Linked DNA regions of Homo sapiens. The protein of the gene in region 1 purifies or fractionates together with the protein of each later gene. This does not show direct contact. Each region holds a gene or a part of one and is shown on either strand. Other genes may lie near its edges. The genes, in order: ATP8A2 and ZDHHC8.

Region 1 (3,810 bases):
GTTTCTTACATTAGAGTTCATATTTTCTGGGATTTAAGGATACAGGTGTATTTTCCTATTCTCTTGAGAAGTAGACTAAACAATATTTGCAGTGATGACAGACGCACACAGAAGAAAACATTAGAAGAGATGCCTTTCTATCCTCTCATGTGGTTGAGCATTCTTACAGCCAAATGACTAAATTGGCTGTAAATTGGTTTCTAGGAGGAGCAGCTGTCACTACGTGTGATGTATAATATTTAGCCAGGGCCAACTCAGGGGCTGTGTCATTTGTCCTATCTTTAAATTGAGGTCAGAGTGTCACACACAACCCCTCCCCTGGGGCAGGGTGGACTGGACTAGGTTGCATACGCTGGCTGTCAGCTCAGCAAAAATGCCACATGGGGCTTGTCACTCCGCCAGACACTCACTGACTCACGGGCTGGCAGGTCACGCTCGGTTAGCGCTCCAGGGCCTGACTCTGGATTGAGCTAAACTGGCAGAATCCACTCAGGCCAACCCTTGGTCTACTGCTGTGTACAGACAGCCCAGTCCTGTGTTGAGTCTCTCTTCTCCTGGATGACCCTGCAAAAGGAAGAGACCAGTTGTACTGTGGGCTTAGTTCTGGGTTTCCACTGCACACTGACACGTGCCAGCAAGGGTAGCTGTGGAAAACACGTATCAGGAGAGCAGAGTAGTCTGGATGAATACTCTGTGCTGATCAGAACGGGCTCGGTCATAATTTAGGAGTGGAGCTGATGTGTCTGTCCTGCCTCAGTGCAGAATATTCCAGGCTTCTTGACCAGGGTTATGTTCACCCATCTCCCAACACACACATGCACACATGAAAACAAAAACATGGTAACTCTTTTGGTTCGGCACACCATACAAAACGTGCTTTGGGGCGAGGAGTGCTGTTTCTTTTAACACTTGTAGAGGAATATCCTGAGAAGTGAACCTGGGCTTTGGGAGAGCTCAGCTGAGAATTCTGTTGACATTTTCTTTCCCTTGACAAGGCTTCAGGTTCGTCTCACTATAGGGAGCTGGCTGTGAAAATCAGTAATAACTTGTCAAGAAGCAGTGAAAAATGCGGGGGGGTGGAAAGAGCCTAGGTAACTAATGTCTTATAATGCATATGTATGTAAATATTACAGGATTTAAGGTTGAATTTTTTAAAAAGAAAGTTATAGTCTGTAATTTCCATTTGTTATAATAATGACCTTTAATCTTGTCATTTGGAACCATAAAGCATTTTTATCAGGTACCTCTGTTCCAAGGGATTTATGTCTTAGACCATAGCTGAATTGAATGTTTGCAAAACACTGCTATAGGATAAGGTGGTCTTTAGTTTTGAACGTGTGAAAGGACTGCACACTTTTCAGCCAGGGTTTGAGTTACTGCCCAGGGTCATCGTCTCAAAGTAATTCAAGGAGTGATTTAACATCAGCATTTGAAATGTAGTCTTCATCTCCTGGGATCCATAAAAAAATGTGAACAGGGAAATGGTGGCTAAGCAGAGCCTGAAATAATAACTTGGCAAAGAAATGAGTTTATCAGGTCGAGTCAAAACATGGCATCCCCTGTTACACTCAAGAAATGTTTTCTTCATGTAAATGTTTATACGGGCATATATAATCACAATGGGAACAGTTAAAACCCCCTCCCTTCAAAAAAAGAAAATCTATATCAGTTGGGTTTGGTTTTGGTTCTTCATTGGCTCAAGGCAGTTAACTGTCTCAGTATAGCCTTCGGGGAGATTTAACCTCATTCTAGCCATTTTTCCATCCTGAAGGCCAAGAAGGACTATTAGAAGGGTTTTTGAGGGGTTTCGGAGGTGAGGGCCCAAGACCCCCATAATGACATCATTAGGCATTCTTGAAAGGTGTTAACAGACCAGCACGCTCGATGTGTTGTACCCTTCATTTATTTTTTTTTCTCAGCATCCCAAGTTGTCCATCAGTACATTCCCCTTCACCTTACCTGATCTTCATTTAATGCCCAGTCTGTAACTAATGTTCTGTTTAAAGCTCTCTTAATTTGTTGGCTATGAGTGATTTGTGAATCTGGGATGTAACCCTGAGTGAGGAGAAAAGGGCATTGAGCCAGCATAAATCTGAATGGGCAGAAGCCACAAACAAATGGGAGCAGAAAAGAAGGGCGAGCTCCCCCGCGCCGCACCCCGTGTATAATCCAGTGTTAACCTCTGAGGAACACCTCGGCTCTCCCAACTGAGGAGAGACAAAAGAGGGATTCTTTTTACACCCAGGCTGGCGCATTTTCAAGTGACAATCTCGGGCTCTAGTTGCCTTTGAGATATCCACTCTGCTCTTTCTCCCAGGCCTCAGACCAAGAAAAACATGCTCTCAAGATTAGCCCATAGGCAGTTCTTGTGACCTGGCTGAAGAAAGAAAGGAGACCTGTTTGTTTTAAAAGTCGGGCGCAAAGTGTCAGGTGGCTTTGATTTATGACAGAAAGAGGAAGAAGAAAGTTGGAGTAATAGCACTATCCAAATAACCCTGCCCAGGAAACTTGGGGGTCAAGAGAGCTTATCAAGAGCCTTTTATAGGTAAGCTCTTCCGTGTGAAAGAGAAAAGGCCGGAAAGAGGGAGAGAGCCCAGAGAGCAGGCTGCGAACTCACTTCCAATGGGATTGGAGTCTGTTGTATTCTTAAGAGATAGCCTGATATGTGGTTTATAGGTGAATCAATAAACACCAACAACAACAAAAAAAAAAAAAAAAAAAAAGGAAGAAAAGAAAAAAAGGAAACCAGCCCTGTCATGGAATTTCTCTCCTTCCCTGCACAGTAAAGACTTTTGGGTTTTCATGGATAAAATCAATGTCAGTACTGAAACTCCTACTCTCCCCTCCCGCCCCACTCTCCCCCGTTGCCCGAGATGGCCAAGTTCAGGCCTGTGCAATGCCGCTTCCCTCTGAGCCTCCCTCTCAAGGGCCACGCAGGCAGCTGCAGCAGGGCCAGCTGCAGGATGGGGCTGCCGGTCACTGAATTGTCGTTCAAATGCATCATCTTTGTGGCGTCTTTCTCATGCGAGCAAAGCCACGTGCTCTCCTGTCTGCTGTCACATCTGTGCCTGGATTGCTTAAATATTGTTTGTGATGGGGAGGTTTTAATCTGGTGATGCAGAGGGAAGCAGGGCTGTGGGGGCACGTTTAATTGGCTCCCAGCAGCGTGGGGGGTGCTTCTATGGTGTGTGGGGTTTTTTGTTGCCTCCCTCTAGAAGTGTTACCGTTTTCACGTCCTATTAATGTCCTCTGGTTGTTAAATTACAGCAGCACATTACAGTGCACTGGGTTCCCTCCTGGAGTGAATACAAACGGAGGGCATCTACTTGTATTTTTAGAAGTTTTGGGAGAATTTAGTGATTTGTGGCTTTGATCAATCCTGTTGACTGGTGTATGTCTGCGCAAACCTGTTTCAAATAAATCTTTTGTTAAAGTAAGTGATTGGACTGTTTTATTTTGGAATTTTCTTTTCCACTAATCAGCATTTACTGCCACAGGGACTGCGGCCTGTAACACAGGGGTTTGTCAGCATGTGCAGGCTCAAGGACACATACACTGCCTGGAGAGCCGAGGCCCAGGCAACAGTGTTCACTGGCAGGAGCGCAGGAGAGTCTGAGTTCCAGATGAACACATGTTCCTTGCTCTGAGGCAAGGCCCCATTTTCTAGAAGAGAGTCCAGGGGGCCACACAGAGTTTGGATTCAGTCACTCAAAGGAAAGAATGGTGCTTACAAGACCTCCTTCCTCCATTACTTCCCTCCCTCTAGTTCATCTCATTTGGCTACAAACTGAGGAGGCAGCTCAAATTCAA
Region 2 (3,662 bases), on another chromosome or scaffold:
GGGTCCCAAGGTGCCCTTCTGTGGACCAGGCGAGCAGGTAAGGAGGCCTAGCCTGCCCCCTGGCAGGCCTCGTCCCCCAGGCCCGCCTCTAGGAGCTCGCCCCACAGCCTTCACCCCGTGAAGGCCCCACCTCCAGAGCCCCATCTCTCCAGCAGAGGCCACATCCCCTGAGGCCATGCCCCTCAGGGCTCTGCCTGGGTCACCAAGGGCCTTGTGTGACTGGTAGGACCCTGTCTGTGTGCACCCAGAGCTGGGACCCACAGAGGGGAGCAGGGTGTCCTGGGAGGGGCTGGCGTGGGCCATCCAGGCTTGGCGTCTGTCCCTTGGCCAGCATTGCCCTAGGCCAGGTGGGCGGCTGCCCCCAGGAGCACTGTGTACCAGGATGCCTGGAATTCCACCATTAGTCACTCTGTAAGGCCCACGGGAAGACTTTGGAAGAATTTGAGACGTGCTTGAGAAAGCACATTTCTCTTCCCTGAGTTGCATGAGTGCTCTGTGGTCACTGGAATGGTGGGCAGTGCGGGGCGGTCTGTGCAGTGATCAGGAACACCAAACAGTCCCAGGGTGCCATCCTTCCTTCTGGGCCACCCCGAGAGGCAGGCCTGTGACTGGGCCCTGTGCACCTAGACCAGCCCCATCCCCAGGGACCTCTCCCCTCAGGACTGATGTCTTTCCTGGAGAGAGTCACTGGGTGAAGCAGTGAGTCTGAGCCTCCTTGGCCAAGGGTCTGAGTCTGCAGGCATGTAGGGGCCGTGCCTCGCAGGAGGAGGCATCCCTGTTTGGAGATGAGGGCTCTGGGTATGTCATCTTCCTGGGACTCCTGGGTCCAGTGGGGGATTGGGTCTGGTTGGCCAAGTGCATTGAGCCCACATTTGCCCTGATCCACTTCTGGCTTTGTGGTTCCTGAGGCTCTTGTCCCAAGCCCAAGCCCAAGCCCATGCCTATGTGCCCGTCACAGGGGCTAGACGAGGCTCCTCCTCCCTCTGGCTGCCCTGAGTGGTGGGCCCCTGGGGCTGCATGGCTCCAAGGGCAGAACCCCAGGTGTCTGCAGTAGCCAGCTGTGGCCTCCCTCCTGTTGCAGAGCCCCTGCCCCTCAGCCGTGGATGCTCAGGGACAGGGCCATGGGTCACTATGTGGCTCTTATGGCTCCTTGAGGCCCAGTTCCTGAGGCCACGGTGCCATGTGTGGCCCCCGTGGGTGCTGACTGGCGGCTGCAGGCGGGGTGGCAGGTGGGCAGTGGTGAGAATGCCTTCTCCCTACAGGTTCCAGGCCCTGATTCCCTGACCCTGGGGGACGACAGCATCCGTAGCCTGGACTTTGTGTCCGAGCCGAGCCTGGACCTCCCTGACTATGGGCCAGGGGGCCTGCATGCAGCCTACCCGCCATCCCCACCGCTCAGCGCCTCTGATGCCTTCTCGGGCGCTTTGCGCTCCCTGAGCCTCAAGGCCTCGAGCCGGCGGGGCGGGGATCATGTGGCCCTGCAGCCCCTGCGCTCTGAGGGGGGGCCCCCCACGCCCCACCGTAGCATTTTTGCCCCCCATGCACTGCCCAACCGCAACGGCAGCCTGTCCTATGACAGCCTGCTCAATCCTGGCTCGCCTGGTGGCCACGCCTGCCCTGCCCACCCAGCAGTTGGCGTGGCCGGATACCACTCACCCTACCTGCATCCTGGGGCAACGGGCGACCCGCCACGGCCCCTACCCCGCAGCTTCAGCCCCGTGCTGGGCCCCCGCCCCCGGGAGCCCTCGCCTGTGCGCTACGACAACCTGTCCAGGACCATCATGGCATCCATCCAGGAGCGCAAGGACAGGGAGGAGCGTGAGCGCCTGCTGCGCTCCCAGGCCGACTCACTCTTCGGCGACTCAGGCGTCTATGACGCTCCCAGCTCCTACAGCCTGCAGCAGGCCAGTGTGCTGTCCGAGGGCCCCCGAGGTCCCGCGCTGCGCTATGGCTCCAGAGACGACCTTGTGGCTGGGCCCGGCTTCGGTGGCGCCCGCAACCCTGCCCTGCAGACGTCACTGTCCTCGCTGTCCAGCTCCGTGAGCCGTGCACCGCGGACGTCGTCCTCCTCCCTGCAGGCTGATCAGGCCAGCAGCAACGCCCCGGGGCCCCGGCCCAGCAGTGGCTCACACAGGTCACCTGCACGCCAGGGCCTGCCCTCCCCGCCCGGCACTCCCCACTCACCATCCTACGCGGGCCCCAAAGCTGTCGCCTTCATCCACACGGACCTCCCAGAGCCACCGCCCTCGCTGACCGTGCAGAGGTGGGTGCCGGGAGGTGCGGGTGGGCTTCCTGGCACAGGGCAGCTGTCCAGCCGTCTCCAGGGCCCCTCTTGGCTGGGCACTCATAGGTCATCCCAGGGGCCTGAGTTTTTCTCTGGGGACGGGACAGGGAGGATGCGCCTCACCCTGCCTTGAAGGCCTTGGCTAGCCCGTGTGGCCCAGCTCTGAGGATGTCCTGGGCACGCTCTGGGGACAGGGTATGAGAATTTGTGTCCTGAGCCCGACGACTCGTTCTTCTAGAGCTGGCACAGACCCAGCATGTGGGAGGCCATGGGGCTTTCTCTTTGGGGCCAGTATCATGTGGCAGCCTGGGCCTCCTTTAGGCTGTGGCTCTGGCTTCCTGGGTCACAGTGGCCCTGTCCACCCAGGGCTCTCCCTGGGCCTGCTTGGCTGCATCTCTAGGAGGCTGGGGCTGAGGATATTACCTAGCAGCAGAATGTGCCACCCTGAGTGGCCGGGCCCTGGCCCTCCCTGTAGGACATAGTTCTAGGAAGCAGGGGCTTCCCTGCTCGTAGGTGGGGAAGCTGAGGACTGGAGAAAGCAGGCTGGCTCCAGGCACCCGGCAGGTTGGTGACTGAGAAGGCGGGGTCAGCTGGCTCACAGGCCCAGGTCCAGGTAGGAGAGCTGCACACCTGCTGGGGCCAGGACCCACGCCACAGACGCATGGTGTCCTCACGGCATCTGTCGCCCTGTCCGGGCCTGGAAACCTCAAGCACAGGCGCAGTTGTTTCCCGTCGGCAGATGCAGCCCCAGAGGGAGAGCCCAGCCCAGCCCAGCCCAGGCCACTTGGCCACAAAGGGGCTGAGGGCACAGCAGTCCAGCCCTGAGCGGGTCTCCTCTACCCCACAGGGTGGGACCTGTTCAGCTTTTGTGGAGTTGGGGAGGAGGCTGCCACTGGGAGTGATGAGTGGGGAGCCCGAGACCTAGAAGTGGGCAGCATTGCAGCCAGGCAGGGATCGCAGCCCGGGGACAAAGGGCTCTCGCCTCAAGAAGGTTTAAGTAGCAAAGATACAGCTGCTGTTGGTCAGCGCTGGTGGGCAGGAGGGCAGCCCCTCGTTTTCCTGAGAGAGAGCAGGAATGAGGCCAGGCAGAGTGGCTGGGCTCCCAGTGCAGGGCACGGCAGGGGCTCCATTCAGTGCCCACCTGGCTGCCCCATGCTCTCTGTGGCCAGTGCTGGCTAGGAGGGACCCAGGGACTCGGGAGGGTGGTGGCAGTTCTGACAACATCTGTCTGTCCTGTGACAGCACAGCTGCTCCCCAGGCAGGCTCTGCATCCCTCACCTGCTTTCCAGGTGAACCCTCCAAGCCCAGAGGGCAGGGACTGCACGGGGCCCCACAACTCGGCTGCACTAGTCCACGTCCGCGTCGTCTCTGTCTTGCT

The links.
Region 2: the proteins of ATP8A2 (region 1) and ZDHHC8 fractionate together in Homo sapiens (co-fractionation; one large-scale study listed by BioGRID). This does not show direct contact.

What each region holds. Positions count from the first base shown.
Region 1 is NC_000013.11:26,022,415-26,026,224, forward strand, and holds the end of ATP8A2 (phospholipid-transporting ATPase IB), read left to right. Parts: 3' UTR 1-3,437; downstream 3,438-3,810. UniProt on the Homo sapiens protein: Catalytic component of a P4-ATPase flippase complex which catalyzes the hydrolysis of ATP coupled to the transport of aminophospholipids from the outer to the inner leaflet of various membranes and ensures the maintenance of asymmetric distribution of phospholipids.
Region 2 is NC_000022.11:20,141,494-20,145,155, forward strand, and holds part of ZDHHC8 (palmitoyltransferase ZDHHC8), read left to right. Parts: coding exon 1-37; intron 38-1,262; coding exon 1,263-2,263; intron 2,264-3,662. UniProt on the Homo sapiens protein: Palmitoyltransferase that catalyzes the addition of palmitate onto various protein substrates and therefore functions in several unrelated biological processes.